Linked DNA regions of Homo sapiens. The protein of the gene in region 2 interacts with the protein of the main gene of each other region in a pairwise test. Each region holds a gene or a part of one and is shown on either strand. Other genes may lie near its edges.

Region 1 (8,258 bases), on a different chromosome or scaffold from region 2:
CATGCCTGTAATCCCATCACTTTGGGAGGCTGATGTGGGAGAATTGCTTGAGGCTGGCCTGTTTAACATAGCGAGAACCCCGTTTATAAAACAAATGCACACAGAAAAATAAAATTTTAAAGAAGAAAAAAAGTGCCAACTTCGTGGGATTTTTGTGTGGGGTTGTTGTGAAGATTAGTAAAATCACATATATGTGATGTATAGGACACTACCAGACTCTAGTAGGCACTTAAAATATAGGGGTCACCAGCCTGGCCAAAATGGTGAAACTCTGTCTCTACTAAAAATACAAAAAATTAGCCAGTCGTGGTGGCGGGCGCCTGTAGTCCCAGCTACTCGGGAGGCTGAGGCAGGAGAATGGCGTGAACCCGGGAGGCGGAGCTTGCAGTGAGCCGAGACCGCGCCACTGCACTCCAGCCTGGGTGACAGAGCGAGACTCCGTCTCAAAACAAACAAACAAAAACCCCACAAAAATTAGCCAGGCGTGGTGGCGGGTGCCTGTAATCTCAGCTACTCGGGAGACTGAGGTGAGATAATTGCCTGAACCTAGGAGGCAGAGGTTGCAGTGAGCTGAGATTGCGCCATTTGCGCTCCAGCGTGAGCAGCAGGAGCGAAACTCCGTCACACACACACACACACACACACACACACACACACACAGCCGGGCGCAGTGGCTCATGCCTCCCAGCACTTTGGGAGGCTGAAGCGGGTGGATCACCTGAGGTCAGGAGTTCGAGACCAGCCTGACCAACATGGAGAAACCCCGTCTCTACTAAAAATACAAAAATTAACCGGGCGTGGTGGCCCATGCTTGTAATCCCAGCTACTCGGGAAGCTGAGGCAGGAGAGTCGCTTGAACCCAGGAGGCGGAGGTTACGGTGAGCCAAGATCGAGCCATTGCACTCCAGCCTGGGCAACAAAAGTGAAACTCTGTCTCAAAAAAAAAAAAAAAAAAAAAAAAAATTGGGGTCAGGGCCAGGTGAGGTGGCTCACGCCTGTAATCCCAACATTTTGGGAGGCTGAGGTGGGTGGATCACTTGAGGTCAGGAGTTCGAGACCAGCCTGGCCAACATGGCGAAACCCCATCCGTCCCTACTAAAAATACAAAAATTAGCCAGGTGTGGTGGCACATGCCTGTAGTCCCAGCCACTTGGGAGGCTGAGACAGGAGAATTGCTTGAACCTGGGAGGTGGAGGTTGCAGTGAGCCAAAATTGATCACGCCACTGCACTCCAACCTGGGCAACAGAACAAGACTCTGTCTAAAAAAAAAAAAAGGGTCTATTAAGGCTGAGTGCAGTGGCTCATGCCTGTAATCCCAACTACTCGGGTGGCTGAGGCATGAGAACTGCTTGAACGCGAGAGGTGGAGGTGCAGTCAGCTGAGATCCCACCAATGCACTCCAGCCTGGGCAACAGAGTGAGACTATCTAAAAAAAAAAAACAAAAAAAACAAAAAAAACACAAATTTACAAAGAATATTAAAAAAGATTATTATTAAAACTTGACATTTGGCCAAGCTCAGTGGTTCATGCCTATAATCCCAGCAAGGTGTGGGAGGATTGCTTGAGCCCAGGAGTTTGAGACCAGCCTGGGCAACATAGTGAGACCGTTTCTGAAAAAAAAAAAAAAAAAAAAAAAAAAAAAAAAATTAGCCAGGTGTGGCGGCTAACACCTGTAGTCACAGCAACTCCAGATGCTGAGGCAGGAGGACTGCTTGAGCCTGGAAGATGGAGGCTTCAGTGAGCTGTGACTGTGCCACTGCACTCCAGCCTAGGTGACAGAGCAAAATCTTGTCTCAAAAACAAAAAAACCCGTGTCATCTGTTATGTCCTCTAGTAAGACTTTCCTGATCATTCGGAGGGGATTCATCCCTTCTAGTACCTTCCTTCTAGCTCACTTATCCACTACGCTGAGTACCTTGAGTCATTTCCAAAAAGGCTGGGTAAAACTCTTTTTTTTTTTTTTTTTTTTGAGACGGAGTTTCGCTCTTGTTGCCCAGGCTGGAGTGCAATGGCACGATCTCAGCTCACTGCAACCTCCGCCTCCCACGTTCAAGCAATTCTCCTGCCTCAGCCTGCCAAGTAGCTGGGATTACAGGCATGCACCACCACGCCTGGCTAATTTTGTATTTTTAGTAGAGATGGGGTTTCTCCATGTTGAGGCTGGTCTCGAACTCCTGAACTCGTGATCCACCCGCCTCGGCCTCCCAAAGTGCTGGGATTACATGCGTGAGCCACCGCACCCGGCCAAAACTCTTAAATATACAATACACACACCTGTACCTCCTCTACTCGAGGGGCTTCCTGTCATTGTTGTGTAGCTCCTCTGCCCTCTACCATACTGCTTGGTAAATTGCAATGACCTTTTTATTTTTCTTTTTTTCAATCAGCTCTCTCAGGTTGAAAAATTGTAGGGACTTTGCTACAAGTTTTTCAGTAGAGTAATTGAAAGAATGAGGGTTAATTTTCCTCCAATATGCTGGATTCACTCCAGGATCCTACTGCAGCAAAGAGGCTCCCACCCTGTTTCACCTCCTTCCATGGAGGGATGTGCAGCAGGCCCTTAAGGACAGGAGAACGCAGCGCCCTCCCCCCTTTTCTGTCCCAGACACACCTTAAGGATCTCATCTCCAACAATGATGATGCCAGCCGTCACGCTGCGCCCCGGAGAAAGTTCAGAGGCCCTAGATGTCATGGTCCTGCCTTCTCTGCCCCTCTGCAAGGCCCTCCAGTAGCCACCCAGACCCCCAAATAGGGGTCGCAAGCACGGGGGGCCTGCCAGGTCTACAGGGCACTGGGGGCCATAGCCTGGGAACAGGGGGTCCTGGGTCGAGGGAACCTGGAGAAGCCAGAAAAGACAATGGGGGAGAGCAGGCGTGCGCGTGCTTCCTTCGAGGAAGACCCTAGTCTTCTCTAACCAGATCCTTGACAAGCGACTCCTTTGTTCCTGCCTCTGGAATAAACGTGTTCCCAAATCCCAACCCATGTCCTTTTAAATGTCTTGCTTAGCTCTAGTCTTAAAAACTTCTTCTCTCTTGAGAACCTACCACTTTAAGTGTCTTCCGTTTGCTGAGCTGGTCTCCTCAAGTGTCTGCTCTACCTTGGGCATCCGTACCCCTTTAAATGTCTACCTTATCCTGGGCCTTGGCCCTTTTCAATGCATTCGCTCTCCACCCCGGACCAAAATCCCGTCTCTTTCTACTTCAGGCTTCTGCACCCTTTCTAGCCCAGAATCCCTTCTTCCCACCAAGCTTCAGATTACTGAGCCCTCTTAGACTCTCACCTGCCTGTTCTGCCCCTTCACCGGCTCTTTCCCTTGTTCCTTTCCTCATGTCCCGGGGCAGCTTCCGTACTTAAAGTCCCGCCTTGCACCTAGCTGACATTGAATGGTGATTTTGGCTGTCGCTTAGACTCTTCCAGGGTCCCATTGGTGTATTCAACTGTCGCTCTCAGGCTTTAGCCAGTGGATGGGAGCAGGGCCGGATTGTTATAGGCGACAACCACGTGGTCACTTCTCGCCCGGAAATACGGGGGCCGGACCTTAGCCCACGGTCGGGGGCGGGACCTCGGGAGTTTAGGGCGGGAAAGGAGCCGTAGTTAAAGGTGCTGTAAGGCCCTCGGGGAGTTTCTGGTGCTGGATTCAAATAATTGTTATGCATGTGTTGCTTTGTTTTGTTTTGTTTAATGGGTCAGTTAGCCATGGTTTAAGCTGTTTTCATTCACCGTGACTCTAACACTAGGCTAAGGGCTTTTACTGGAGTGAGAAAGCATCTTATTTATAGCAGAAGGAAGTTGGAGGGACACCGAGAAAGATTATTACCACTGTCTGTCGGATATGAAGACCCTGGAGTAGGTGAGCTTTTGATGTGTGGAACCTTAATTTATCTCTAGTATAGTAGACAAAACGAATTACTTAAATCTCTTTGACAAGAAAGAGTCCAAAAACCCTCTCTTCCTCCACCTTGCTCCAGATGGTGCTTAGTTCAAATGACCTTTCCCAGTAATTGGTCTTGTAGGTGCAAATGAGGCAGCGAATAGGGAGTGCCTTACATGTTTACTCTGGATCCTCACATCATCCGAGCTTACCCCCATTTCAGTTGCCTTTGTTCTAAAAGTACATCTTAAACTTTTTTCCAACAATAATCTGGGGATCTTTTCATATGCAGATTGATTCAGTAGGTTTGGGTGGGGCCTGAGATCTGCATTTAGCTAGTTCCCATGTGATGGTGATCCCACTGCTCTATGGACTACATTTTGAATGGTAAGGGCCCGAATTCATTCTTTGTTTTTTTGAGACGGAGTCTCCCTCTGTCACCCAGGCTGGAGTGCAGTGGCGCGATCTCGGCTCACTGCAAGCTCCGCCTCCCGGGTTCACGCCATTCTCCTGCCTCAGCCTCCCGAGTAGCTGGGACTACAGGCGCCCGCCACCATGCCCGGCTTTTTTTTAAAAATTTTTTTATTTTCATTTTTTTTTTAGTAGAGACGGGGTTTCACTGTGTTAGCCAGCATGGTCTCGATCTCCTGACCTCGTGATCCGCCCGCCTCGGCCTCCCAAAGTGCTGTGATTACAGGCGTGAGCCACCGCGCCGGGCCGAATTCATTCTTTGTAGGACTGGTAAACCACACCTTGCCAAATTTTACTCTTCAAAACCCTTGGTCGGGCGCAGCACTTTGGGAGTCTGAGGAGGGAGGATTGCTTGAGTTCTCTCAATTGAAAAAAAGAAAAAAAGGCCGGGCGCGGTGACTCACGCCTGTAATCCCAGCACTTTGGGAGGCCGAGGCGGGCGGATCACCTGAGGTCAGGAGCTGGAGACCAGCCTGATCAACATGGAGAAACCCCGTCTCTACTAAAAACACAAAAAATTAGCCGGGCGTGGTGGCGGGAGCCTGTAGTCCCAGCTACTCAGGAGGCTGAGGCAGGAGAATGGCGTGAACCCGGGAGGCGCAGCTTGCAGTGAGCCGAGATTGTGTCACTGCACTCCAGCCTGGGCGACAGAACGAGGCTCCATCAAAAAGAAAAAAAATACCCTGTAAGATACACATCATGCTCATTTTACAGATGAGGAACAGGCTCAGAAAGGTGAAGGGATGCCACACAACCACAAAACACAGTGAATGGTGGACCCAGGTGATCAGGTGTCTAGACCATTCTTTTAAGTAATAAGCCCCCCCTCCCTTTTTTTTTTTTGAACCAGGGTCTCTCTGTTGCCCAGGCTCGAGTGCAGTGGCGCAAGCACCGTTCACTGCAGCCTCGACCTCCTGGGCTCAAGTGATCCTCCCATCTCAGACTCCAGAGTAACTGGGACCACAGGGGCGCCCCACCATGCCTGGCTAATTTTTGTATTTTTAGTAGAGACGGAGTTTGGTCATGTTGCGCAGGCTGGTCTTGAACTCCTGGGCTCAAGTGATTCCCTGCCTTGGCCTCCCAAAGTATTGGGATTACAGGTGTGAGCCCCCGTACTTGGCCCTCATTTCTTTCAATTATAAAAAGTCAGCTCTTTGAAAAAAAAAAAAAGGGCAAAACAAGAATTCCACTTGCCTAGTAAACCACATGTTCCAATATCTTTATTAGCAATACAGGTGATATTTGATCCCCTCCCAAAACAGAATACCAAGACTGTTCCAGTATTTTCCTAGTGGATTCTCAAGCTTAAGTGTACATCAGAATCAGCTGGAGAGCTTGTTAAAACATTGCTGTGCCCAATCCTGAGTTTAGGATTCAGTAGGTCTAGGTTGTTGCCCAATAATTTGCATTTCTAATGAATTTTCCCGATGTTGATGCCTGCTATTTTAGGAATAAGTGGATGGAAGACAGGAAAAATGGGGGAGATTAATATCCTTACTTAGTACTAGTATTTTTTTTTCTTTTTTTTTTGAGGCGGAGTCTGGCTCTGTCGCCTAGGCTGGAGTGCAGTGGCGCAATCTCGGCTCACTGCAAGCTCCGCCTCCCGAGTTCACGCCATTCTCCTGCCTTAGCCTCCCGAGTAGCTGGGACTACAGGCGCCCACCGCCTTGCCCAGCTAATTTTTTTGTATTTTTAGTAGAGACAGGGTTTCACCATGTTAGCCAGGATGGTCTCGATCTCCTGACCTCATGATCCGCCAGCCTCGGCCTCCCAAAGTGCTGTGATTACAGGCGTGAGCCACGACGCCCGGCCACTTAGTACTACTGTTTTGTTAGACTAGAGGGGAAGTTATTATTCTGTGGAATGTTTTTTTTTTAAATTGAGACACAGCTTCTGTCGCCCAGGCTGAGTGCAGTGGTGTGATCTTGGCTCACTTTCACCTCTGCCTCTCGGGTTCAAGCGATCCTCTCACCTCAGCCTCCTGAGTAGCAGGGATTACAGGCACACACCACGCCCGGCTAATTTATTTTTATTTTTTTGAGACAGAGTTTCACTCTTGTTGCCCAAGCTGAAGTGCAATAGCGTGATCTCAGCTCACTGCAACCTCTGCCTCCCAGGTTCAAGTGATTCTCCTGCCTCAGCCTCCGGAGTAGCTGGGATTACAGGCGTGTGCCACCACGCCCGGCTAATTTTGTTTTAGTAGAGATGGGGTTTCACCATGTTGGCCAGGCTGGTTTCAAACTTCTGACCTCAGGTGATCCACCCACCTCAGCCTCCCAAAGTGCTGGGATTACAGGCATGAGCCACTGCACCCAGCCTAATTTTTGTATTTTTAATAGAGACGGGAGTTTCACCATGTTGGCCAGGCTGGTCTCGAACTCCTGACCTCAAGTGATCTGCCCTCCTTAGCCTCCCAAAATGCTGGGATTACAGGTGTGAGCCACCACGTGTGGCCTGGAATGTTTTCTTAAACAGCTACATTTTGCACCTGTTTTCTCAAAGCTTAGTTCTTTACCTACCTGCATAAGATGCCTGAAATCTTTACCCCCAGTCCACACTCCAGACCAATTAAGAATCCTTAAGAATGACTCAGGCAGGCATCAGTACTTGTAAAGCTCCCCAGGTGATTCCAACGCCCAAGCCAAGTTAAGAACAGCTGAAAACCTTCCCCAACCAAGGGGCACAGTGAATAGGTCATAGATATGCCTATTATTCCTATTAGGAATTGGGACACACAAGCAGCCCCTGACTGACAGCATCCTTTTATCCATGTGTGCCATTCAAATATTGGGACTATGTTAAAGGCAGCACCCCGACTGTAGGAAGCAGTTCATTTGTTTGGATGAGATGAAGTTGTCCCTATATAACCTCTACCTCAGGCTAGTAGTTAGAGTGAAATATATTTCAGTAGATGTTTGACAGCAAGTCTGCTTAAAGTAGATTAAAAACCAGTTATCTCAATGTTAAACCTCATTATCAGCAAAGAGCTGAGCTTCATTATCAAACTGAAGGGCATATAATTAGAACCATGATATTGATGATGCTCACCCTGAGTGAGGGGGAAAAAACCCGTACAATTACAGCACTAGATTATAAAAACTTCCTCTTTAATCAAGGCTTTTAACATGAACAGATTTCTTGAATAAAATGGAAAGTTTCCAGTACACTGAAACATAAATCCGCAAGTCACCACACATACAACACCCGGCAGGAAAAAACAAAAACAGCAAGTTTACATGATCCCTGTAACAGCCATGGTCTCAAACTCAGATGCTTCCTCCATCTGCCAAGTGTGTTCTGGATACAGAGCACATCGTGGCTTCTGGGGTCACACTCAGCTTAGGCTGTGGGTCCACAGAGCACTCATCTGGCTGGGCTATGGTGGTGGTGGCTCTACTCAAGAAGCAAAGCAGTTACCAGCACATTCAAACAGTGTATTGAACATCTTTTAAATATCAAAGTGAGAAACAAGAAGGCAACATAATAATGTTATCAGAAAGATGTTAGGAAGTAAGGACAGCTGTGTAAAGCTTGAGGCTGAAAAGTAGCTTGCCAGCTTCATTTCTTTGGTTTCTTGGGTAGTGGGCGCCGGAACAGCAAGATGTGAGGTTCTGAAAGAGTGAGGGAAATCTAAGAGACAAGCTCACACCATTCTATGTACAACCTATAGTGTATTCCACTACCACCTCCCCAGCTATCACCCACTCAGATCTTTATAACTAAATAAAGACTTAAGCATATGGCCTTAGAAGCAGACCCAGAAGTCTGGACTGTCTGCCAAGTACAGAATTGTTAATATCAGTTCTTTTGCTATGTTTATACAGCCCCAGGGTGTCCCTTATTAGTTTTGCCTGGCAGCTGGGTGTCTGGTGTCTTATCAATAAATATACTTTCCTTTGCTTATTTAGAACACA
Region 2 (7,752 bases):
GCCTCAGCCTCCCGAGTAGCTGGGATTATGGGCATGTGTCACCACAGTCAGCTAATTTTATATTTTTAGTAGAGACTAGGTTTCTCCATGTTGGTCAGTCTGGTCTCGACCTCCTGGCCTCAGGTGATCCGCCTGCCTCGGCCTCCCAAAGTGCTGGGATTACAGGCATGAGCCACCGTGCCCGGCCGCAAACCTACAATTTCTAAAGTGTGAATGTGACAATTTTGTGCAATACGCAACGCGCAAAACAATGGAAGTGCTGATATTCTTTTGAAAAACAACCCTTATGGCCATGTGGACTATCAGTAAAAGAGAAAGAGACAAGAAATTCAGAAGAGAGATGAGACCTCAACAATGGCCGAAGCAAAGGGGATGGAGAGCAAGAAGAGCCAGGAGAAATCTGGAAGACATACTTAATTACTGATGACATTTGGGGAATGACAAAGGAATAAAAGGACACACTGGCCAGGTGCGGTGTCTCAGGCCTGTAATCCCAGCACTTTGGGAGCCCAAGGCAGGCGGATCACGAGGTCAGGAGTTTGTGACCAGCCTAGCCAACGTGGTAAAACCCTATCTCTACTAAAAATACAAAAATTAGCCAGGTGTGGTGGCAGGTGCCTCCCACCTACTCGGGAGGCTGAGGCAGGAAAATTGCTTGAACCCAGGAGGCGGAGGTTGCAGTGAGCAGAGATCGCACCATTGTATTCCAGCCTGGGCGATAGGGCAAGGCTCCATCTCAAGAAAAAAAAAAAAAGGCGAGACACTCACCAAAGACTTCAAATTTGGAAGATGCCCATTAACAAAAATGAAAAATACACAAGGAGACATAATTTGGGGATAAAAAGGAAAGTGAAGAGAGAAGGACCAATTTCATATTGAAATGTAATTATTTTAAGTTGCCTGTGGAAGATCCAAGACTCAAGCTGTGATATGTGGGTATGAAGCTCAAGAGAGGGGAATGGACTAAATGCATATATTTGAGAGGCATCAACATGTCACAGAGGCTGAGGCAAAGAGAGAGAGGATGAGATCACCCAATGAGGTGAAACAGGGAATTATGGGCAGAGAGAGATTGCCTCTCTAGACTCCAGACTCTTATCAGTGCTCAAGCCTCTAACATGCCTCTCCCGGAAACCTGCCTATAGTCAAGGCAGCACATATGCCCTCTGCACAAGTTTCATGTCCATAAGCAAAGAAAAAAGAAACCCGATTTTTAAAAATCAGTTTCATTACCATCTGCAAAGACAAGACAATGCAAGGCAAAGTGAGCAAATGACAGCTGAGGAGATGCAAATTCAAATGAATAAGATTAGTGCGAGTATATGAGTACTAAGGAGGTAAAAAGTCCTGTATTAGCCAGTACAGGCTTCCAGAAACCTCCTGGTTAGAGATGGCTAGGAGCCAAGGGGACTGATAAAGAAGAAATGGAGTGGGAGGGGCCATTCCATTTTAAAAAGCACAAGTGACAACACAGATTTCGGCAATGGCAAGCCATAGGTCGGGGTAAAAGCAGACTTAGTTGGCTGAACCAGAGGAGCTGCCTCGGAGAGTCACAAAAAAAGACAGAGGTGTTGAAAGAATACTAGGCTGAAAAGTTTACATTTACCATAATCAAGAGGAGACAACTGCCAGGTTTTGAGCTTCACAGTAAGATAAAACAACAGCATCCAAAGAACACTTAACAGCTGTGTGTAGGCAGTCTAGCATGGAGAAATCCAGAGTCAGAGATTAGTGAGGAGGCTGTTAATATAACGTGAGCCAGAGAGGTCAAAAAGGCAGTTCAGCAAGTCTCTGTGAAGGAGCTGATGCAGGTGCACGAAGAGTCAGCTATAAATCTAAAATCCTAAACCTGGAGCCTCAAATGATGATGGTGTTATGGGCAGGTCCCACTTTTAAATGCTATGCGTTCCAAGGGGCATCTGTTTGCACTTGCTGGAAACAGATGAATGAGCAGGTAACAGACTGAGAAGTGAAATATGTCTTCACTAGGCATTGGGAAATATGTGGTGACTGACTACTCATACTGACAATAAGAGAAGCCAGAAGAGAACAGATTTTGAGAGCAGGGCAAGAGAGGAATCCAGTGAGCAGCAGAGAGCATGGCTGGCAGATGCAGGATAATAAGAACTACCCTTTCTGCCCTCCATCAATACAGATACTTTATTCCCCCAAAGTTCTCAAGTTATGGTGTTCCTTTTTACTACTTCCTGAGAAGCTGAAGTAGTGACTGCACAACAGTTATGTAACCAACCTTAAATAGTAACTTCACCCGTTTCAGCCTCCAATTCCAACTTTTAGAAATGGAGTGTTTTACAATATGGCAAGTGCAGAAGGATGGGTGTTCCTGAATCTTCAACCCAGTCCCTCCAGTAAAACTCCATAAACTGAAAACTATGACAATAGAGGTCATGTCCATTTTCGCTTATCAATATATCTGTAGCACCTAATCTAACACTTGGCATACAGCGGGCATACAATAAATATTTACAAGTGAATTATCAAATGCTATTTACTCTCTGCATGAGAGTAATAATTATCCCAGTTTTCTTTCCTGCCTTCTCTCTCCCTTCCTTCTATGGCTCTTCTTACGATGGAATGCTCTGTTCCTCTCTTTGGGCAATCCCATCCATTCTCACATCTAGGTGGATAAATCCCAATTCTCTATTTTTCACCTCTATATCTTTTTTTTTTTTTTTTTTTGAGACAGAGTTTTGCTGTTGCCCAGGCTGGAATGCAGTGGCGCAATCTCAGCTCACTGCAAACTCCACCTCATGGGTTCAAGCAATTCTCCTGCCTCAGCCTCCTGAGCAGCTGGGATTACAGGGGTGCATTACCACACCTGACTACTTTTTGTATTTTTAATAGAGACGGGGTTTCACCATGTTGGCCAGGCTGGTCTCGAACTCCTGATGTCAGGCGATCCGCCCACCTCGGCCTCCCAAAGTGCTGGGATTACAGGCGTGAGCCACCGCGCCCGGCCCAGCTCTATATCTTTCATTCTAGAGTTGAGGGGATCCGTCAGAAAGAAATTCTGATTATTCCTTAAAGAACTCAAGTGATCTGATAGACCACACAAGGCCAGAAATCAGGTAACCTCAAATAGTGCTGTCCAATAGAATTTTCTGCAATGACGGAAATGTTCTAAACCTGAACTGTCCAATAAATTACCCACCACGTGACAATCGAGCATCTAAAATGTAGCTAGTACAACAGAGAAACTACATTTTTTACTTAATAGTTAAATAACTCCACGTGGCTGGGGGGCTACCATAATATCCACCACAGTCCTGGAAACTTGCCCTGCCCTGATCCATCTCAAGTCCCTCAGGCCTGAAGTTAAGCTCATCATACTGTAACTCCACAGTGCTTATGTATTTCACCTCCCGTTCCTCTTCACAGAACTAGTCCCACTTGCCCATCCCTCTCTCTCCTCTCTTCCCCAAGAAACACATACATACTGGCATACCTGCTTTGTGCTCTGCTCTATTACATTTGAAAGATATTGCATTTTTTACAAATTGACAGTTTGTGGCAAATCTGTGTCAAGCAAGTCTTTCAGTGCCATTTTTCCAACAGCATGTGCTCACTTCAGGTCTCTGTGTCACATTTTAGTAATTCTCACAATATTTCAAACTTTTTCGTTATTATTATATCTGTTACAATGATCTGTGATCAGTGATCTTTGATCTTTGATGCTACTGGAAGAAAATGCCATCTAGGACTTTCACAGGTAGAGAGAAGTCAATGCCTGACTTCAAAGCTTCAAGGACAGGCTGTCTTGTTAGGGACTAATGCAGATGGAGACTTTAAACTGAAGCCAACGCTCATTTACCATTTCAGAAATCCTAAGGCCCTTAAGAATTATACTCAGTCCACTCTGCCTGTGCTCTATAAATGGAACAACAAAGCCTGGACGACAGCATGACTGACTGAATATTTTAAGATCTCTGTTAAGAACTACTGCTCATAAAAAAAAGATTCCTTTCAAAATATTACTGCTCATTGACAATGCACCCAAGATCCCTGATGGAGATATATTATACAGGGAGATAAATATTGTTTTCGTGCTTGATAAAACAACATCCATTCTGCAGCCCATGGATCAAGGAGTAATTCTGACTTTCAAGTGTTATTAATTAAGAAATACATTTCATAAGGGTATAGCTGCTATCAACTGTGATTCTTCTGATGGACCTGGAAAAAGTAAATTGAAAACCTTCTGAAAAGGATACAACCATTCTAGATGCCCTTAAGAACATCTGTAATTTATGGGAGGAGGTCAAAATATTAACATAAACAGGAGTTTGGAAAAAGTTGATTCCAACCCTTATGGATGACTTTCAGGGGTTCAAGACTTCAATGGAGGAAGTCACTCCCAATATAGCAGAAATAAAGAGAACTAAAATTATAAGTAGAACCTGAAGATGTGACTGAAATGCTGCAATCTCATGATCATACTTTAATGGATGAGGAGTTGCTTCTTATGGATGTGCAAAGAAAACGGTCTCTTGAGATGAAATCTATTCCTGATGAAGATGTAATGAACATTACCAAAACGCCAACAAAGGGCTGGGTGTTATGGCTCACACCTGTAATCCCAGCACTTTGGGAGGCCAAGGCGGGCGGATCACGAGGTCAGGAGATCGAGACCATCCTGGCTAACACGGTGAAACCCAGTCTCTACTAAAAATACAAAAAAATTAGCCGGGCGTGGTGGCGGGCACCTGTAGTCCCAGCTACTCTGGAGACTGAGGCAGGAGAATGGTGTGAATCCGGGAGGCGGAGCTTGCAGTGAACCGAGATCGCGCCACTGCACTCCAGCCTGGGCGACAGAGCGAGTCTCCGTCTCAAAAAAAAAAAAAAAAAGAAATTGCCACAGACATCCAAACCTTCAGCAACTATGACCCTGATCAGTCAGCAGCCACCAACGTCAAGGCAAGACCCCCCCTACATCAGCAAAAAGATCACAACTCACTGAAGGCTCAGGTGACTATTAGCAATTTTTAGCAAAGTACTTTTAATTAAGGTGTGTACATTGTTTGTTCAGCCATAATGCTATTGCACACTTAACAGACTACAGTATAGTATAAACATAACTTTTATATGCACTAAGAAACCAAAACATGCATATGTTCACTTTATTGCAGTTGTCTAGAACCAAACCCACGTCTCTGAGGTATGCCTGTATGTATACCCTTCAAGTATAATATACTGAACAGCATCTCCCAAATAAATCGCTCTTTTTTTTTTTTTTCTGAGACAGGGTCTCACTCTGTTGCCCAGATTGGGTGCAGGGCGTCATCACAGCTCACTGCAGCCTCAACTTCCTTGGGCTAAAGTGGTCCTCCAGCCTCAGCCTCTGGAGTAGCTGGGACTACAGACACACACCACCATGCCTTGCTAATTTATTTTATTTTGAGATGGGGTTCTCACTATGTTGCCTACACTGGTCTGAAACTCCTGGCCTCAAGCAATCCTCCTGTCTTGACCTCCCAAAGTGCACGGATTACAGGTAGGAGCCACACCTGGCCTAAGTCATTCTTAATATGGTCTCCTGGTATTCCTTTCTCCTAAAACCCAAATCCTATTTAACTTTCAAGCCTCACCTCCTCCCTAAAGCCTTCATTGAGCTGTCTTCTCTTCTCTACATCTTATTATTGGATGTGGTCAAACTACCTTCACAGTTCTCTGACTGTTTAATGTGGATGTAATTCTACTTTCCAAACAAGATTATAATCTCCCTGCTAACAGACTGCATCACTGCCTACGCATTCACAAAACAATGAGGAGGGGTTTCGGGAGATCACTGTCCTGGGCCAGGCCTAGTCTTTACTCCAGGATCCCCCGGTTTTCAGCACCTTTATCAAGTGCATACTATGTGCTAGGCACTATGCTAAATGTCTTACTTACATGGTCTCATTTTAACACTCACAACTCCATTCTGAGAAGAGAAAATTCAGGATGAGAAGATAAGTAACATGTTCAAGTCACATAGCCAATATGTGCCAGAACTACAATTTGAATTCCAAAGAATGGGTTCTTAACCACTGCATCATATAACTTTTGGCTTCACTCATTTGATCGTTCAGTCAAAATTACTACACTCCTGTGTATCTTGTGCCATTCTAGTACTGGGAATAAAGAGATAATATATGAGCCCAGCCTTCAAAAAACTCAGCCTTAGCCAGGCATGGTGGCACGTACCTGTAGTCCCTGCTACTTGGGAGACTGAGGTGGAAGGATTGCTTGAGCCTAGGGGTTCAAGTCCAGCTTGGGCAACACAGCAACACCTCATCTAAAAAAAATAAATCTTGTGGAGGAGAAAAACACAAACAATTATGTTAATAGTAGATGTGGTAAACATGATGATTGCTCTGTGCAAAGGGTGGAAGCACAATGCTAGAGTACCCAACCGAGATTGGGAGGAAGGAGGTGTCAGGAAAAAATTTCCTGGAGGAGGTGGACCTAAACTTTATAACTGAGTCCCATTTATAAACTGGGTTAATTAGGTGAAAAGGAGCAGCCTAATTAGGTGAGGAGCAGGAGGTGGAGAAAGGAAACAGGGAGAAGATTCCAAGCAAAGAGAACAAGGGCAAGTACACAAAGAAGAAATAGCACAGTACCCATGAAGATGCCATTCAGTGTTGCTGGAACCTAAAGCATGAGGCAGAGAAGAGGCTGGAGATACAGGCAGGGTTCAGAACAGGCAGAGCCCTGGCTGAGAAGCTCAAACTTTAGAACTTTCAATGGATTTTGCAAGCCAGTAGACAATGAATGTTTGCTGAATGAATTAGAGAAAAGAATGGATGAATGCATGGACAGATCTTTAAAGATTAAGCAGGAATTTGATACAGACTTGTTTCCAAAGACCATCTGGGGGTGGAGGGGAGTAATGTGAAGAAAAGATATGGGGGAACAGGCCTAGAAGCAGGGAAATCAGTTAGAAGGCCATGATATTGCAGGTAAAAGGACAACAGTAGAGATGGAGAAGACTGCACAGATTTGAGAGATGTTTAGGGGGTAAAACTATCAGGACTTAGTGATGAATGTGATAAGAGTTAAGTCCAGGAAAGACACTGAGTTCAGTTTCAGTCATCTGAATTTGAAGTGTCTGTGGGACTTGCAGGCAGAGCTGTCCAGGAGGATAGTCAGATGTGAGGGTAAAGCTCAGAGAGGTCTAAGCTGACAATTTCAATTTGGGGGCATGTAGGAGGTAGTTAAAACCAAGCCAGCTGATGGGTTCACTCAGGCAATGTGTACAGAATGAAAAGAACAGTTTTCATTCTGAATGCTGGTAATATTATGTATCTGTAACCTAATCTGGATGGTGGTCACATAGGTATAATCATTTTATAAAAACTGGTCAAGCTTCACATCCACATGTATGTTTATTGCAGCACTATTAACAATAGCAAAGAGTTGGAACCAACCCAAATGCCCATCAATGATAGACTGGATAAAGAAAATGTGGCACATATATACCATGGAATATTATACAGCCATAAAAAAGAATGAGTTCATGTCCTTTGCAGGGACATGGATGAAGCTGGAAACCATCATTCTCAGCAAACTAACACAGGAACAGAAAACCAAACACCACATGTTCTCACTCATAAGTGGGAGTTGAACAATGAGAACACATGGGCAGAGGGAGGGGAACATCACACACTGGGGCGTGTCAGGGGGTGAGGGGCTAGGGGAGGGATAGCATTAGGAGAAATACCTAATGTAGATGACAGGTTGATGGGTGCA
Region 3 (7,619 bases), on a different chromosome or scaffold from region 2:
GTTTTGTCATCTCCATTTTCTGCAGGGTTATTCCCCTCCCTGCCAGCATTAGCATTTACCCTTTTCCCTATGGGTACCTTCACTCACTTTTTTGCAGGGGCCTCTTTAGGCTTAGACTCTGGCTTTGGAGAAGCAGGTTTAGCAGACAACCTCTTGGATCTTTTCTGTGGTTTGTCCTTCATGTTGGATTTATCTCCTTTAGCATCCCCTTCAGCCTTTCTCTTGGGGATGGTGGTGATAGTGGCGGGACATAGGCTCTGGGGGAGGGATGCAGTGGTGCACGGGCTTTGGCCACTCTGGGGAGTCGTTCTTGTCTCTTTACTTCCAGATTCTTTTTTTTATTTTTTTATTTTTTTTATCTTATAAGTAATTCCTTTGCTCTCCTCTGGCTCTCATGTATCCTCATTATTAAATAGTTATGCCATCTAGTCCAGATTCCATTTCAGAAACCTTTCAGCATTTTTACCATTCGAAGATTTGCAGTTTAATCTTTTTATTAGTTTTCTAGAGTGACTGTACCAAAGTACCACACTAGGTGGCTAAAGCAATAGAAATGGAATGTCTCACATTTCTGGAGTCCAGAAGACCATCAAAGTATTGTCAGTGTTGGTTCCTTCTGAGAGTGGTGGGGGAGAATCTGCTCAGAGACCTTTCTCCTAGCTTCTGGGGCTTTACTGCCAATCTTTGGCATTCACTGGTTTGTGGAAGCATCACCCCAATCTCTGCCTTCATCTTCACATGGTGTTCTCCCTGAGCATCTTCATGTTTCTGTGTTCAAATTTCCTTGCTATAAGGACACTTGTCACATTGGATTAGGGGCCCACACCACTCCAGCTTGATTTCATGTTAACTAAGTACATCTACAATGACCCTATTTTCAAATAAGGTCACATTCTGAGGTGCTAAGGATTAGGACTTCACCATATGAATTGAGGTATGGGGAGACATAATTCAACCCATAACAGTCTTAAATTAAGAGGTGTAATTTCTGTCCATTTGTGTATTTTCCCAGAGAAATTTCTTAAAGTCCAAATAAAAAACTTAATTGGTCCAATAATGATGATTCAGAGGAGCTATTGTTATCTGAGCTTCTATAAAAATTAGCGTGCTTTGGGCTGCAAGTACCAAAAGTGTGACTCAATGCCAGCCATATGAATGAACCATCTTGGGTGCCCAGCCCTGTTGAGTCTTTAGACTTGATTCTCAACTCATATCTCAATGCAACCACATGAGAGATCCCATGAGTGAACTGCCCAGCTAAACCTTCTCTCAATTTCTCACTTACAAAATTGTGAGCAGAATAAAATGGTTGTTTTAAGCCAGTATGTTTTGGGTAGCTGGTTGTGCAGGAATAGTAACTTAATGGGAAGAAATATCCAAAGTAAATAAATAACTCCTATGAAAGAATTAAAAAAGAGAAGCACCCCAGTTGAGAATTGAGACAAAAATAGGAATTTCAATCAAGAGGAATAAAAAATGCCCCCCCAACCAAGGTATTAAATCTAATTCATAATCATAGAAATTCTACATAAAAGCATAATAACAATTGACATTCCTCAGGATTAACAACATTTAAGTCACACAATATGAAATGTTAGTGATGATATGGAGCTTGATGGAAACATAAATTTGTACAGCAACCCAGAAGACAATTTGGCAATGTCTCTGAATACTAAAGATAGTCTTTGATTCAGCAATGCCATGGCTAGGTACATAACTTAGAGGAACTCTCCAAGAATATTTAAAGCAGCATTGTTTCTGATAGTAAAAATGGGAAACAACTTAAATATCTGTCAATGGGAAAATTGATAAATTTTGGTACACACACACACACAATGGAATACTATACAGAAGTGAAAATTGAGGAATAAAATTTGCTTATATCAAAATGGTGATTCTCACAAACAATAATTAGTTAATACAGTGATGACTATGAATAGTATGATATCATTTCTGCCAAGTGTAAAAGAGACAAAGACAATTTTTTAGGGATATAGTCATTTGCAGAAAAAGCACGAAGAAATGCACATGGAGGACAAGAGTGGGAGACAACAGGGAAGGAATCTGCAGGCGCTTACCCTCACTGGCAGTGTTTTATGTCTTCATCCAGTTACTACATTCAGGAGTACTGGATGTACTTTTTAAGTACGTTTTGTATGTTAAATATTGCAGAATGTATTTTATAAAGTATTTAATTACCAGAAACTCTTTAAAAAATTCCCAGGCCTGTTTCAGACTCAGCAGATCAGATTGCAGAGGTGGGGCCCATGAATCTGCCCCTTTTGTGACCCCGATAGTCACTACTGGTCTAAGCCAGGGCAAGGCCACCCCGGTGGAGGTTGCTTCCTTCATGCTGTATTATGTTTTTCACTTTACAAGTAATAATGTTTATCCATCAGTTCCCCAACTTTGGTGCTGCTGTGTTATCTACCATGCAAGGAGATGGGGAAGCAAAAGTAATTAAGACATTTCCACTGGTTTCAAGGGCAAAGGTTAACTCCAATATAAAGGAGTTCTAAAACTTTTCAAATTGGACATATTCACATCTATTGTCTTGATACCAGTGTTTCCAAATCCTTTTTTCCCAATGCCCAGAACATCCACAGATCACTGCGTCTGTCTGGGAACTTCACAGGCTTCTTTCCGGAGACATTCCAGACACGCCCCTCTGCCTTGGCATGAATACTTGGCATCTCCCCTTGACATCTCAAGCTTTGTCATTTACTCACTGTGTGACCTTGGGCCAGTAGTGTCCCTTCTCTGAACCTCTGTTTCCACCCCTGCAAGTTGGGCAGATGAAGGTTCAGTTTGAAGCTGGTTGAGCCCTTGGAGTGACAAAGCAAGGGACTGTGAATGGACAAAAATGAGAGAAATAAATTCTAATAGGCATGAAGCAACCAGGGGAGAAATAGTCCCAATTCTACCCAAAGACTGATGGGCACTAATTTAGAATCCAGTCTCAATTCTACCTTCAATACGGTGTGTGACCTTGAAAATGTCTCTTAATCTCTCTGAGCCTCATGAGTCAAATCAGGATAATGTTAATACCTGCTTCAGAGTTCTGGTGAGGAGCAAATGAAATAACTCCTGTAAAGATGTTTCAGGAATTCTGTCTGACCAGGAAAAAGCCCTTGGGGCCATTTCTTCTTGGTCCCTGACAAGTGCCAGGCTGACGAGCAGAACTCAGGGTGGGGCAGGAAGTCAGTGGACAGTTTTGTGCCCCACTCACTGCAAGGTGGCCTCCCAGACTTGGCTGGATGGGTGAACCTGGCCTGAAAATCAACCACAAGCCCCTTTTCGTTGTGTTTGGAGAGGAGCTGAAGCTGTGTGAATAGGAGTTGAGCATGCGGCTGGCAGAGCAGGCAGGACCCACAGAACACCTGGGCCCACTGCCTGAGGGACAGTCACTCCCTTCTTCATTTGGCTGCTGCCCTGGGATCAAACGGATACAATAGAACCCACGGCGCACGGCTGCCAAGGAAGGGCAGGCCCAAGGGATTGGGCTCCAAGTCCTGGAAGTGGTTTCCCAAGTCACTAGATTTGCAGCGCACAAAACCGGAAAGGTCCCGGTAAACCTGTCCACTGGCACCTGGGCAGCGAAGCGCTTTGGCCGGAGGGCCTCAGGTCCCAGCAGCGGGATGGACAGCGGGGAGATGGCTGACCCTCCTTGGGGTGGTGTGCGTGACCTGCATGAGTGCCTGGGGCATCTCCTGCACGGAATGGCACCCGCACCAGGTGCCCCTGGCCTCGCCAGCCAGAGGACCAGTCCTGGACGGGGAGGGGGAGGACAAGAGCAGGTGAACAGGCCCCAGAACCCGGCTCCCTGACCCTGGCCATAATGCAGAGCTGCCTGGCGCACCTCAGACCACTCCCTGGCCCTCTGGTGGGCACGCCGGGGTGCAGACCCCTCGCCCCGCTGGCACCTCCGTGGCACGTGCGGGAGGGGCAGGAGCCGGGACCAGGAACCGCTGTGGTGAGAGCCAAAGGCACGGGGACTGGCCGCCACAGACCTTTGGCCACCGCAGTGGGGATGGGGGTGGGCGGGCGCTTGTGTGCCCGGGGGCCCGGGGGCCCCCGTGGCGGGGGGGCTAGGGGAGAGGAGCAGGTGACGTCACCCGGGGACCTGGGGCCCCCAGGGGCGGCGGCGAGAGCCCGACCTCGTGACCCGTCCGCGCCAATGGCCCTGCGGTCTCCCGGACGACGCGGAGGGGTCCGCGCTGCACCGCCGCCGCGCCCCCGCCCCGTGTCCGCACTGCAGAGAGCCGCGGCGAGCAGGCGCCGGCGCACTGGCCCACGTGCTGCGCGAGCGAGGGAGAGCCACAGTCTGAGCGAACGTCCGCGCTGGGAGCCAGGGGTGCCCGACCCCCGTCCGCCGCCGCCGCCGCCGCCGCGCATAGCCCCCGGAGAGCCCTCTGGGGACCCCGACCAGAAGGGACCTTGCCCTGGGAGAAGGTAACAGACCCACCTGGGGAGGGAGACGCTGGGCCCCGGGAGACTCCGCCGCCCCTCGCCTGTCCGCCCTATCAGAACTGAAGCAGCCTGCAGGGCAGGGGTCCAGGGTCCTGGGGCAGCGCGGGGAGGGGGCTGAGGCCCGCAGAGACCCCACGGGGGGTGGGGGTGGGGGGCTGGGCAGGGGCGGGGCCTGGCTGCAGAGGCGCCGCCCGGGGAGGAGGGCGGCTGGGGGTGGGGGTGGGGGTGGGCGTGGATGTGGGCGTGCGGAGAGGTGGGCATTAACCTCGCTCTCGCCCTGCTCGCATTCACAGGCTGTGGAGACCTGGGCCTTCTGCGATCACCCTAGGAGTTGATCCAGATATGTGCCTCACGCCCTGATCACTCCCCCCAAATTAGTATCCGCAGAGATTCGAGGACATGCCGTTGACCTTGTTACAGGACTGGTGTCGGGGGGAACACCTGAACACCCGGAGGTGCATGCTCATCCTGGGGATCCCCGAGGACTGTGGCGAGGATGAGTTTGAGGAGACACTCCAGGAGGCTTGCAGGCACCTGGGCAGATACAGGGTGATTGGCAGGATGTTTAGGAGGGAGGAGAACGCCCAGGCGATTCTACTGGAGCTGGCACAAGATATCGACTATGCTTTGCTCCCAAGGGAAATACCAGGAAAGGGGGGGCCCTGGGAAGTGATTGTAAAACCCCGTAACTCAGATGGGGAATTTCTCAACAGACTGAACCGCTTCTTAGAGGAGGAGAGGCGGACCGTGTCAGATATGAACCGAGTCCTCGGGTCGGACACCAATTGTTCGGCTCCAAGAGTGACTATATCACCAGAGTTCTGGACCTGGGCCCAGACTCTGGGGGCAGCAGTGCAGCCTCTGCTAGAACAAATGTTGTACCGAGAACTAAGAGTGTTTTCTGGGAACACCATATCCATCCCAGGTGCACTGGCCTTTGATGCCTGGCTTGAGCACACCACTGAGATGCTACAGATGTGGCAGGTGCCCGAGGGGGAAAAGAGGCGGAGGCTGATGGAATGCTTACGGGGCCCTGCTCTCCAGGTGGTCAGTGGGCTCCGGGCCAGCAATGCTTCCATAACTGTGGAGGAGTGCCTGGCTGCCTTGCAGCAGGTGTTCGGACCTGTGGAGAGCCATAAAATTGCCCAGGTGAAGTTGTGTAAAGCCTATCAGGAGGCAGGAGAGAAAGTATCTAGCTTTGTGTTACGTTTGGAACCCCTGCTCCAAAGAGCTGTAGAAAACAATGTGGTATCACGTAGAAACGTGAATCAGACTCGCCTGAAACGAGTCTTAAGTGGGGCCACCCTTCCTGACAAACTCCGAGATAAGCTTAAGCTGATGAAACAGCGAAGGAAGCCTCCTGGTTTCCTGGCCCTGGTGAAGCTCCTGCGTGAGGAGGAGGAATGGGAGGCCACTTTAGGTCCAGATAGGGAGAGTCTGGAGGGGCTGGAAGTAGCCCCAAGGCCACCTGCCAGGATCACTGGGGTTGGGGCAGTACCTCTCCCTGCCTCTGGCAACAGTTTTGATGCGAGGCCTTCCCAGGGCTACCGGCGCCGGAGGGGCAGAGGCCAACACCGAAGGGGTGGTGTGGCAAGGGCTGGCTCTCGAGGCTCAAGAAAACGGAAACGCCACACATTCTGCTATAGCTGTGGGGAAGACGGCCACATCAGGGTACAGTGCATCAACCCCTCCAACCTGCTCTTGGTAAAGCAGAAGAAACAGGCTGCAGTTGAGTCGGGAAACGGGAACTGGGCTTGGGACAAGAGCCATCCCAAGTCCAAGGCCAAGTAGGCTCGGGAGAACAGGGCAACATTTCCTACCACAGGCCAAGGAGACAAAAGAGATATTGGAAGGAGGGGAAAGAGAAGCCCAGACAAACAGCAGATGAGTTGAGTGGGGCAGAGGGACAGGGCAGCCAGACCAAGGCCAAGCCTTCTCACCCTTGGCCAGCTGGAAGGGACTTCAGCAACCAAGACCACCTGGCAACAGGCTCAGTGGGGGTCAGGTCCAGGTCCCCGAAGAGGTGCTGGAGAGGAAAGCAGGGAGCCACTGCATCCAGCACATGGGGTGCCTGGGCCTCAGATGGGGACCCCAAAGAAGCAGAAGCTGAAGAAGGTACGGCTGGGGGTTCTGTCCTGCTCATCCAACCACCCCTAAATACCCACCCTGTGGACTTTGAGCTGAACATGCCCACTGGCCCCCAGGCCACATGGGACCTGGAGGAGCCTACCTGGGGCCTGCCCCTGCCAGCAGGTGCCAGGGCTGGTGAGGAAGAGCTGGGGGGCAGAGGTAAAGCCCTGCAGGGGAGGCCACAGGGTCCATCCCGTCTTCAGGATCATCTACACTGCACTAGGGGAGCCCCAGGAAGGCAGCACCCTGGAGGCCCTGTGCCAGTGAGGACAGGAGACCCTAAGGCCCCGGGAGCCCAGTGCCAGCCAGAGGTTGTGCAGGCAAGGAGACCAAAGATTGATGAGAAGACCCCCAGCAGGGGTACTGGGTACCCGGCAGGCCAGTGCCCTCACAGTTGACTTGGACCAGGGTGGCTGTGAAGGGAAGTCTTTGTTGCAAAGGAGGAGGAAAAGGGAGGACTTGGTAGGGTTTTGTTTCTTCTGCTTGTTTCTGTACAGGGCCACCAGACTCCTGGAGAGATCAAGCAAGGAGAACCTGGGGCTGCCATGGCCAAAGCAACTCAACAGATGCCAATGCCAATTCCAAGGCCAGCCACAACCCTGCCACCTTGGGGAATCCAGCCTGGAGGCATCCCCTAAGCAGCCAGCCATGGCCTGGGTGGAGGCACCTGAAGACGTCTGTCCCAAACTCCCCCAGCCCTGAGCTGGGAGATGACAGGGGGAAAGAGGCCCTCTCAAGGGTGCCAGATGCCTGGGTCTCCCAAGAGGGGTCCCCCAACTCACTGTTCCCGGGACAGGCTGCCCCCTGTTCCAGGAAGCTCATCCTCACCTGTGTAGGCCCCTGTAGTGACCCACGCGTCCAGCAGACGCCCACCCACCGCTAGCCGTTGTTCCTGTGCAAAGTAGTGTGCTATGCACCCACCCAGGTGGCCGCCTCTGGGCCCAAGGCACATGCTGTGAGCTTCCTGTGAGCCCAGGCTCTGCTCACTGCTGTCCCGCGTCATGAGCACCACCTCTGCT

What was found.
Region 1: the proteins of APTX (region 2) and FLAD1 interact in binary tests that used the Homo sapiens proteins (3 or more experiments, as listed by UniProt).
Region 3: the proteins of APTX (region 2) and PNMA3 interact in binary tests that used the Homo sapiens proteins (3 or more experiments, as listed by UniProt).

What each region holds. Positions count from the first base shown.
Region 1 is NC_000001.11:154,978,422-154,986,679, reverse strand, and holds the start of FLAD1 (FAD synthase), read right to left. Parts: upstream 3,337-8,258; 5' UTR 2,986-3,336; coding exon 2,614-2,985; intron 1-2,613. Other genes in the region: CKS1B (cyclin-dependent kinases regulatory subunit 1), read right to left, coding at 7,903-7,955. UniProt on the Homo sapiens protein: Catalyzes the adenylation of flavin mononucleotide (FMN) to form flavin adenine dinucleotide (FAD) coenzyme.
Region 2 is NC_000009.12:32,991,039-32,998,790, forward strand, and holds part of APTX (aprataxin), read right to left. Parts: intron 6,311-7,752; exon of another isoform or gene 6,205-6,310; intron 1-6,204. UniProt on the Homo sapiens protein: DNA-binding protein involved in single-strand DNA break repair, double-strand DNA break repair and base excision repair.
Region 3 is NC_000023.11:153,052,187-153,059,805, forward strand, and holds the start of PNMA3 (paraneoplastic antigen Ma3), read left to right. Parts: upstream 1-4,283; 5' UTR 4,284-4,452; intron 4,453-4,763; 5' UTR 4,764-4,869; coding exon 4,870-6,261; 3' UTR 6,262-6,295; coding exon of another isoform or gene 6,296-6,358; 3' UTR 6,359-7,619.